Linked DNA regions of Homo sapiens. The protein of the gene in region 3 interacts with the protein of the main gene of each other region in a biochemical or structural test. Each region holds a gene or a part of one and is shown on either strand. Other genes may lie near its edges.

Region 1 (3,655 bases), about 14 Mb from region 3:
TATTATTTATAGGCCCATTGCACACTGTCATTAAATACCAATATGTTCAATCAACCATGCATTCATTGATTCAATAAATACTGTACATACAAAATAGAAATACAGAAATGGGTAAGACAAGTCCTTGGGCCTAAGGACTTTATAACCTGGTATTTCACTCAACTACATGATAGCATAAATAATGTTTGCTTCTGTTTAAGTATTCCTTAAACATTATAGATCTCCCAAAGAAAATTAAATACAAACCTCTTTTTAAAGTGAATTTGACAAAGCAAAATAAATTGGAATATATAGATAAATATGCTAAAATTTGTCATATGTACTTTGCGTACTTTACATGTGTTATTTCATTCTCAGGGCAATCTAAGACAGTCACTTTTATTATCTCATTTTATAGAGAAGAAAGCTGTGCAGTAAAGAAATCAAATACCTTTCCCAAGGTTACAGAGCTAGTAGTAGAGCCTGGATTTGAATCTGGGTTCTGACTGATTTTTAACTGCCATGACAAGGATCAAAGCTCAAAGTGTGATCTCTGTGTTAGAAACATCGGGGTTGCTCTTTAAAAAAGCCGATTCTCAGGCCTCAACCCAGACCTACTGACCCAGACACTGCAAGTAGAATCCATCAAAATGCAGTAGTTACTTTGAGAATCATGAAACTCTGCTACACAGTCTGTCTTCCTATTCATGGAAGTCCTCTCCTAGTATATAAATGTGAAGTAATATTTCTATTTCAAACCTGTATTGATAACTGTCTGGAAGATAATTTTCCTGGGAATATATTATTGATGAGACTGCAAAACAGATGTGAGGTATTGGATTGATCTTTCCATTGTAGCTAGGGAAATACTGATGTTCATTGTTTCAGTGAAGTTCAATGATTTCCTATCCGAATTAACTCCCTTAATTTAACAATTTTTTTTTTTTTTTTGAGAGTGAATGCCCCTCTGGGCTTCTAGGCCACATGGTTGCTAGAGAAATTAGGTACTGTGTTGCACTTGAAAACACTAAAATCTTTCTGACTACTTTCACTGAGCAAAGAGACATAAAATGCTTTAAATTTGCAACATTTCAGAAAATAAATTTTAGTGATTATTTATGACTCGAATCTTTCAGATTTTGACAGTGAAAGTGGAAGGTTGTCCAAAACACCCTAAGGGCATTATTTCGCGTAGAGATGTGGAAAAATTTCTTTCAAAAAAAAGGAAATTTCCAAAGAACTACATGTCACAGTATTTTAAGCTCCTAGAAAAATTCCAGATTGCTTTGCCAATAGGAGAAGAATATTTGCTGGTTCCAAGCAGGTAAAGAAAACCTTAAAAAATTAATTGCTACATGGAAATTCACTATCTATTCTTTTAATTGTCAAACTAACTGTAGTCTATAATAGATGTATTAAATAAATAAATATATTTTGCTTCTAGTGTAAACCTCCTACTGACATGTATCATTTATTTTGGAATAAAACATTGCATCTGACACTTTAACAATATAGTAAATCACTTACTTTATGTGTATAGTTACTAGTTGGCTTATCACTGTTGAAATTATTTAAGAAAGGTAAATAGTGGAGATTAATGTGTGTGTGTGTCTGTGTTTGTGTATGTGTGTGTTCTTAAACAACACTGAGAGAGTTTATTAAGCAAGTTCTGAGAAGATAGTGAGTTTTCAACAGAATTTTAAAAGCATTTATGGCATCACAATGGATGCCTATGTTTTAGCCTATACTATGGAAATTTTTCCTACTGCTCTAAGCAACTGGGAAATTTATAAAGTAATATGATGTTGAAATGTGCAAATTACATTGATTGATGGATGCAGCCAATTTTAAAAATAAATATACACTTTTTTTCTAGGACATGTATTTTTCAGGATTTATATAAGATTACATTTGTCTATGCATAACTAATTGTAATAATTTATGTATTAGTGCACAGGGATTACCGAAAATATTTCATGCATCTACATCTGAGCATGCATTTGAATTGGTTATTGACCACTGAATTTTTGGTGTAGGAAAAATATGTAGTGAAACAATGTTACAAAAAGATTACAATTGTTTGGAATGATTACCTTCATTGACTTTAAGCAGTAAAATCATTTGCTCAACAAGGTTGGGTGTTTTGTGAGGCTGTATAACCATAGTGTCCTTTTGCCTTTAGTTTGTCTGACCACAGGCCTGTGATAGAGCTTCCCCATTGTGAGAACTCTGAAATTATCATCCGACTATATGAAATGCCTTATTTTCCAATGGGATTTTGGTCAAGATTAATCAATCGATTACTTGAGATTTCACCTTACATGCTTTCAGGGAGAGGTAAGTATCTAATGAAGACTTATTAGATTTTTAGAGACTATTAATTTAGACTTATTAATTTTTAGAGAAATTAGGGAGATGGCATATGAAAAGTAATATGCCATTTTCTCAGAGTTTACTTGTTTGGAAGGCAGCTGAAGAATTAGAAAATAAGCTCATAAAACCTTGGAGTAGGCAATCTAAAGACACACAAGCACATATAACCTCATCTAATTTGTCAGGAAGAAAATTCCTTAGGTGCTCACTCAGATCTTGACTGTGATTACATTGTAGGGACTGTAATTATCTCTTTTCTGTTGCACAGCCACTAAGACATTTACAAAAAAAGAGCAAATCCGGTGTTTATAATGCTAACTCTTTCTTCTAAAATAAATAGAGACATTTTGGTACTCCAAAGGGAAAATATCATTTTGGGGATTAAAATTAGCTTTACACAGGTGTTACTGGTTTCCAAAATAAACCTTACCTTGATTGGAATTAATCAACATATAGGTAGTTACATTGCATTAAAAAGTTCAGAAAGTTTTGCGTTTAGCATGATCAAAAACTTCTTTTTAAAAATTATGAGGATTTATTTATGATTTTCTTTCTTCATCTGTCGAGCATATTAAACTGCTTAACAGCATCAACCTGAAATGGATCTTAATGTGCAGGGGATTTAACTCTTTTTATTGTAAAGTTGTGGATAAAATATTTAATAGATATGGATGAGGACTCATATCAGTAACAACCCAATACTTTATTTCAAAATGAATAGATCTGTATTACAATCACTTGTGTTGTGTGCAGTAGATTTTTTCCCTTTAACTTAGGAAGCAGTTAATAATTAATGGCTCCATTTTTTAGAACGAGCACTTCGCCCAAACAGAATGTATTGGCGACAAGGCATTTACTTAAATTGGTCTCCTGAAGCTTATTGTCTGGTAGGATCTGAAGTCTTAGACAATCATCCAGAGAGTTTCTTAAAAATTACAGTTCCTTCTTGTAGAAAAGGTAAGGAAATCAATTTGAATGTTTTCAATTGCAACACTAAAGAAATTTAAACTTAAAAAAAAAAAAAACTTTACCTTAAAGCTTTGCGACAGTATGAGGTTTAGACAAGGTGTTGAGCTCTGTTTTGAATCATGTAGGCTGTATTCTTTTGGGCCAAGTTGTGGACCACATTGATTCTCTCATGGAAGAATGGTTTCCTGGGTTGCTGGAGATTGATATTTGTGGTGAAGGAGAAACTCTGTTGAAGAAATGGGCATTATATAGTTTTAATGATGGTGAAGAACATCAAAAAATCTTACTTGATGACTTGATGAAGAAAGCAGAGGAAGGTATGTTTTGATACAAC
Region 2 (3,655 bases), on a different chromosome or scaffold from region 3:
AGGATTTGAAGTAACAGGCATTTCATCTCAGCTTAAAAGCGGCCTCTTTGGTTCTTAATACAAACAAAACAAAACGAAAAACACACATACATAAAACCCAAACCAACAGGATGAGTGTTATCTAGAATAGTAGTAACCCAATGTTCTATCTGAAAGTTACTTGGCATGTGTGCGTTCTCTGTCTTCAAGTCCATTTTGGGGCAAGGTGGTGGCAAACTGCACAGCCCTTGATTTTCAGGGACTGACTCCGCAATCAGAACCATGCAACAGAAAACGGCCTATTACTGACTTTCTGCAGGCTTTGCTCATGGAATGGGCCTGCGCTGGTTTTTGATGTGAGAGCCAACTTCATTCTGCAATGACAGAGTTAAGACTGCCCGTCAAAAAACTATTTTCTTTTGTAATCCCAGCACTTTGGGAGGCCAAGACGGGCGGATCCCGAGGTCAGGAGATCGAGATCATCCTGGCTAACAGGGTGAAACCCCGTCTCTACTAAAAATACAAAAAAATTAGCCGGGCGCGGTGGCGGGCGCCTGTAGTCCCAGCTACTCGGGAGGCTGAGGCAGGAGAATGGCCCGAACCCGGAAGGCGGAGCTTGCAGTGAGCCAAGATGGCGCCACTGCACTCCAGCCTGGGCGACAGAGCAAGACTCCGTCTCAAAACAAAAAAAAAAAAAAAGGCAAAAAAAGGCCGGACGTGGTGGCTCACGCCTGTAATCCCAGCACTTTGGGAGGCCAAGACGGGCGGATCCCGAGGTCAGGAGATCGAGATCATCCTGGCTAACAGGGTGAAACCCTGTCTCTACTAAAAATACAAAAAAATTAGCTGGGCATGGTGGTGGGCGCCTGTAGTCCCAGCTACTCGGGAGGCTGAGGCAGGAGAATGGGGTGAACCCGGGAGGCGGAGCTTGCAGTGAGCCGAGATCGCACCACTGCACTCCAGCCTGGGTGACAGAGCGAGACTCCATCTCAAAAAACAACAACAAAAAAAATGTTCTTTTTGGTTCCATATACCTGCAAATAAACTGAAAACCAATGAACTGTACACTTAGGTAAGTGAACTGTGGTATGTGAATGACATCTCAAAAAGGCTGTTAAAAAATGTTCTGACTTTATTAGCTAAAGTAAAAAAAAAAAAAAAAATCACAAAAAAGAGGAAATAAAAGTTCCTGTTTTGCTGCATAAATCATGATGCTGATGTCATCCAGAAGAATTATGTCTGTTCAGGAGGACTTTGCAAGGTTTGTGCAGATGCAGTTTAACCTGGATTTTTGTGGTCATATCTATGGAGCTGGGATCAGGAGCCAGGTCCCGGGGCCAGAGGGACTTTGAGAACTCACTTGGAACAGGGGCTGATCACAGTCGGCGTGGGTGGGTAAACCAAGGCAACATTTACTCGCTCGCTGCCGTTCTTGGGGCAAATGATCTCTGCCACTCCTTCCGGTCTGGGCTGACTCAGCAACTCCCCTGTAGGAGGAGAGAGAAAAACGTGTTAGGGAGATGTGCACTAAAAATGGGCTCATTTTACAAAGACAGCACTGCCCGGGGATGGGGGCAGGGGGAGAAGGGCAGAGGTGAAGCAACGAAGGATGTGAGAACAAATGTGCAACCAAGAACAGCAGAACTGCCTGGGCGCCGGCTCCAGCGCCTAAATCCTCCTCTGCGTCACCGTGGAGAAAATTTTCATGGTTATGGCAGGAAGGCCCACACTAGACAAAGACAGCATCTGTCACTGCTCTGCTCACCTTCCTTTTAACAGACTGACTCCAGGGATCTTTATCTAGATATCAACGACTGAGCCAGAGTCCCCAGAGCCCACCGAAGCAAGGGCTGCCAAGGAGGTGTTCATAATTAGGATTTGGGGCAGATGGGACTCAAGCAGACCACAGCAACCATTCAACAAAGCCCTATATAAATGATCTGGAAACACAGCAGACTAAAAGTGTTAAAAACACAAACAGCCTAAGATCAGCCCAGCCTCCTCTGGGCAAGGGGATTGCCCTGATAGGTATGTGTGAAGCAGATGCACGACACAACACTATCTAACGAGTCTAGCAAAAACACATAATTAACCTAATGGATCACCACAATACTTAAAGGAACGCTATTACTCTGCATGCCCTGGATGTAATCTCTCTTCAACTAGATCATTACATCTCTAAAAGCAGTGATGACTTCCATTCTCTCATCCATATACCCAGGGCACCCTGCCCTTTCTCAGAGAGTACTCAAGAAACAGCTCCTGGCTGCAGATGGGACACATTATTGTTCAAACTGCCCTACTTAAACCTAGGAACTAAATTTTTTGTTGTTGTTTTGGAGACAGGCTCTTGGTTTGTCACCCAGGCTGAAGTGCAGTGGCCTAATCACAGCTCTCTGCAGCCTCAATCTCCCAGGCTCAGGTGATCCTCCCACCTCAGACTCCCAAATAGCTGGGACCACAGGTATGCAGCACCACATCTGGCTAAATGTTAACCTTTTACTTTATTTTTGTAGAGACAGGAGTCTCGATATGTTTCCCAGGCTGGTCTCAAACTTCTGGCCTCAAGCAATCCTCCCACCTCAGCCTCCCAAAGTGCTGGGATTACAGGTGTGAGCCACCATGTCTGGCTTCTAGAAAGTCAATTAACCAAATCAAGGATGTGAAATGTACACCAACTGGGGAAAGACACTACTGCAATTACAACTTCAACTCTCTGCACCAACCACTTCTACTGCTGACTTGAAATTCTAGAGACTCCGGGCTGGGCGCGGTGGCTCACACCTGCAATCCTAGCAGTTTGGAAGGCTGAGGCAGGTGGATCACAAGGTCAGGAGTTCGAGACCAGCCTGGCCAATAAGGTGAAACTCCACATCTACTAAAAATACAAAAATCAGCTAGGCATTTGTGGCAGGTGCCTGTAGTCCCAGCTACCCAGGAGGCTGAGGCAGGTGAATCGCTTGAACCCGGAAGGCAGAGGTTCCAGTGAGCCCAGATTGCGCCACTGCACTCCAGCCTGGGCGACAGAGTGAGAATCTGTCTCAACAACAACAAAAAAAAAAAAAGAAAAGAAATTCTAGAGACTCCAAAGAAGAGCAGTCCCCCCTTATCCCTCAGACATGCGTTCCAAGACCCCAGCGGATGCATGAAACCGAGGACAGTACCGAAGACTATACAGACTATGTTTTTGCCTATAAGTAGATACCTATGATAAAGTTTAATTTATAAATTAGGCACAGTAAGAAATTTACAACAATAAATAGGACAATGATAATATACTGTATTAATAATTAAACTTTTATGAATATGGTCTCTCAAAAACTATTATTATGCTGCATTCACATGTATTTGGACCACAGTTGATTGCAGGTAACTGAAATCACAGAAAGTGAAACCATGGATAAGGGGACCACTGTATCTGCTGACGTATAATGATATGAAATTCCTTTGCTTCAAAGTACTGTATTTCTGGCTGGGACAGTGGTTCATGCCTCTAATCCCAGCACTTTGCGAGGCAAAGACGGGTGGATCGCTTGAGCCCAGGAGTTCAAGATCAGCCTGGCCAACATGGTAAAACCCAGTCTCTACTAGAAATACAAAAATCAGCCAGGCATGTTGGCGGGCACCTGTAATCTCAGGTATTCGGGAGGCTGAGGCATGAGAATCACTTGAATCC
Region 3 (3,655 bases):
AGACATCCAGAGAGCTCTCTCATTACGGGCTGTGCTGCCTGAATCATGTGACTCTGAGAAATAAATGGGGGAAAGATGTCGTTCCAATACCCAATCCTAAATTCATTGTTTAGCTAACAATATCTGTGTTGTCAGTCTCTACAATCATAACAAAAAGACTTATGTTTTGATGATTTTGAAGTAATTGTCTATAAAAACAATAAATAATTCCCTCTTAGTTTTTTACTCTGAGTTTACTTGTTATAGTTAAGCCAGAAGTTTATTGAGGAATTTTAGGGGAGGCATTTGTAGAATAAGGCTTAGCTACTCCCTGTTGACTTTAGTAGATCCAGAGAACTGACAGATCCCTTAATTTTGGTTCCACAGAATCATCCTGATGTTGCAAGCAAATTGGCTACTTGTCCCTTCAATGCTCGCCACCAGGTTCCTCGAGCTGAAATTAGTCATCATATCTCAAGCTGTGATGACAGAAGTTGTATTGAGCAAGATGTTGGTAAGACTTAGTATCTAAAATATTTCAGTACTGGAGGGTAGCTCCTTCAGATTTGTATTATGCTAGATTGTCAGCTTGATTTTTGGCTTTCAGTGTTTTAGAAGAACAATACTTTTCCACCTTTGAGATTTGTATCATGGCAGCAATAGGTTGTCAGATTGTACATGTCATACTGTTTTCTCTCCTGAACAGCCTGGTTCATTTTACTAATAATTCATCTAAAAATAAATCTTTTATTGCCATAAATATGGTAAACATTTTTGTTTCTGCTTTTCTTTCTTCTGTCAGCAAAGAGATAAGATCCCTCTTTTAGCTTTTATACTATCCATTTTTCAGAAATAAAGACCCAACAGGCTACCCTTGCAACCTTTTAAGCTACTAGCCCCTTTGAACACAATAACTTGGCAATATCCCCCTCTTATATCCAATCTTTATTGTCTTGCAGTCAACCAAACCAGGAGCCTTAGACAAGAGACTCTGGCTGAGAGCACTTGGCAGTGCCCTCCTTGCGATGAAGACTGGGATAAAGGTGAGCTGCCTCTACATCTTTTTCTTCACAATGTCTAAATCTCAAGTCATTTGCTTAAGACAGAAGGAAGATTTTCCTTTTTTATGAACATACCATGTTGTTCAGAATGCCTTATTATTTTTATTGGGCCCCAAAACGAGCACATTTGTATCGCTGTGCAGACACGTGGAACAGCCAATCCCTCTTGATTGGAAAAAGCACTTCTTTACATCTGTTTTTTTCCATAAATTGTGTTGTACCATCTGTGTTTGATTGTTAGTAGGCACGTTTATTATTATTTATGTTGCTTGTGTTTATATTCTTCAATTAAATTCTTGCTACTGTGTCACTTAGGCAGGACACTTGATCAATTTTTACTTGCTTCTGCAAAACTTAGGTGTATTATTTCCCATCTTATAAATTCAACCAACATGAACTGCTGGTGTCTTATCTAGTAGTACCACAAACTATGTTTTGCTTCCTTTAACAGATTTGTGGGAGCAGACCAGCACCCCATTTGTCTGGGGCACAACTCACTACTCTGACAACAACAGGTAAATGAAATAGTCTTATCCCAGCATTGTCTCCCAAAATCAGCGTGTTCTGTTACCAAGAGAAGCCACCGGAGCATGAATTGACCACTTTCTTTAACGATGTTCCTTGATGGTAGTTTAGTCTAGATATTGTTTTGGCATTTTTTCATATTTATTCCTTGATTCAAAAAGGTCATGTGCTTTGTGCCAATCATAAGGGATACAAAAATACATTATCGTTTAGCAAGGGAAACAGTAGCCCCAGACTTTCATGTGTCTTAGTTATGTTTTTTGCTAGGTTTACATTATTTTAATGCTTTGAAAAAATTCTCCCACTATACCACTTGGATCATTTTTACTTTAGGTAACTAGTGTATAGGAAAAAGCAGTCTTAAAAATTCTTTATTTGAGATTGGAAAATCCAGAGTACCTATTAGGAAAGAATATGCATCTCTTCTTCCCACTGATTTTGTATCTGATTTATTTTTTTAGAGACAGGGACTCTGTCAACCAGGCTGGAGTGTAATGGCATGATCATGGCTCACTGCAGGCTCTGCCTCCTGGGCTCAAGCGATCCCCCTGGGCCTCTCAAATAGCAAGAACTATAGGGATCCACCACCACACCTAGCTAATTCTTTATTTTTGCCCAGGCTGGTCTCAAACTTCTGGCCTCAAGTGATCCTCCCCCCTCTGCCTCCCAAAGTGTTGCTCATGCCCAGCTCTAATTGAAAACTAGATGATTTCTGGCCAGGCACAGAGTAGCTCATACCTGGAGGCCAAGGTGGGAGGATCGCTGAGGCCAGGAGTTCAAGATCAACATGAGTAACACAGTAAGATCCTGTCTCTACAAAAAAATTAAAAAAAAAAAATAAGCTGGGCATGGTGGTGGATGCCTATAGTCTCAGCTACTTGGGAAGTTGAGACCAGAGGATCATTTAAGCCCAGGAGGTCGAGGCTGCAGTGAGCCATGATCATGCCACTGCACTCCAGCCTGGGTGACAGAAAGAGTCCTTGTCCAAAATAAAATAAAAATGAATGAAGCTATTTCTCATTAACACCAATACTCAAACCTTGGAAGATCAAGTTTCAAACCCAAATGAGAATATTTCTGGTTTAGGAAATGAAGGAATAAGATGCTAGACTTCACTTTTTTCCCCAAACAGAATGCTTGTCAAATTTTTACTTTTTAACTACTGAGAACAGTAAATAATTTTAAGTGTATACTATTTTATGTGCACTAAGATAGAAAAACTTAAAATGAATTCCGTTGGCTACAACTTTTAATTTTACCTCAGTTGAAGATTTGCTGCTTTTGGTTTGGTTGCCTTAGCACTTTATTTTATCTCTTACGTTTATTGAGTGAGTTGATGAGCCTGTCATACAGCTGAACAGTAGATGGCATTGCTGTTTATCTCAATTTCTAGAAAATGAAAATGGTTAGACCCATCTTAATGTCTATACAGAACAGGGAGCTTTCCAGAGAAGTAAGTGGTAATCATTCTAATTGCCGGAACGTTTTGATGGAAATGTGTTTACATTTCAGATGAATGTAGGTTGTTGTTTTTCCCCAAATTACAAAAAACACATTTTGATTATCTTACGTGTGCCTGCTTGAATGATACTGATCTGCCGACATAGCCAAATTCATCTTTTTGCAGCCCTGCGAGCAACATAGTTACAGAACATAAGAATAACCTGGCTTCAGGCATGCGAGTTCCCAAATCTCTGCCGTATGTTCTGCCATGGAAAAACAGTAAGTGAAATAGAGACAAAATAGTTTTACTCTTTTCATTGTGCTAAATACAGTTGATCTTGATTATTCAGATGTGTTCAGTCTGAACACCTTGCATTTCCATGACCCTTAAAGTGAGTGCCTCCTTAAATGTTATGCCCTAAGCACCTTACTCAGTTCACCCTACTGACCGTGGTTAGGAGCAAGAAATTATGAACAGGAAAGTATAAGATCACAGAAGCCAAAAGAATATTTTCAAAATGGGGTGACCACTGACGTCAAATACCATGAGAAAATTTGGGAGCCAATAAAAAGGTTAATGATTTGGGCTAGGAGGAAGTGATCCCTGATTTCTTTCAAGGCATAATATCAGGCCGGGCGCGGTGGCT

The links.
Region 1: the proteins of GTSF1 (region 3) and LRRK2 form a complex in vitro, tested with the Homo sapiens proteins (one large-scale study listed by BioGRID and IntAct).
Region 2: the proteins of GTSF1 (region 3) and MFHAS1 form a complex in vitro, tested with the Homo sapiens proteins (one large-scale study listed by BioGRID and IntAct).

Annotation. Positions count from the first base shown.
Region 1 is NC_000012.12:40,318,873-40,322,527, forward strand, and holds part of LRRK2 (leucine-rich repeat serine/threonine-protein kinase 2), read left to right. Parts: exon of another isoform or gene 1-1,103; intron 1,104-1,115; coding exon 1,116-1,303; intron 1,304-2,161; coding exon 2,162-2,316; intron 2,317-3,162; coding exon 3,163-3,309; intron 3,310-3,446; coding exon 3,447-3,638; intron 3,639-3,655. UniProt on the Homo sapiens protein: Serine/threonine-protein kinase which phosphorylates a broad range of proteins involved in multiple processes such as neuronal plasticity, innate immunity, autophagy, and vesicle trafficking.
Region 2 is NC_000008.11:8,796,026-8,799,680, forward strand, and holds part of MFHAS1 (malignant fibrous histiocytoma-amplified sequence 1), read right to left. Parts: intron 1,467-3,655; coding exon 1,340-1,466; intron 1-1,339. UniProt on the Homo sapiens protein: Probable GTP-binding protein. Functions in innate immunity and more specifically the inflammatory response as a regulator of the Toll-like receptor TLR2 and TLR4 signaling pathways.
Region 3 is NC_000012.12:54,460,009-54,463,663, reverse strand, and holds part of GTSF1 (gametocyte-specific factor 1), read left to right. Parts: intron 1-366; coding exon 367-493; intron 494-938; coding exon 939-1,022; intron 1,023-1,491; coding exon 1,492-1,555; intron 1,556-3,192; coding exon 3,193-3,287; intron 3,288-3,655. UniProt on the Homo sapiens protein: Required for spermatogenesis and is involved in the suppression of retrotransposon transcription in male germ cells.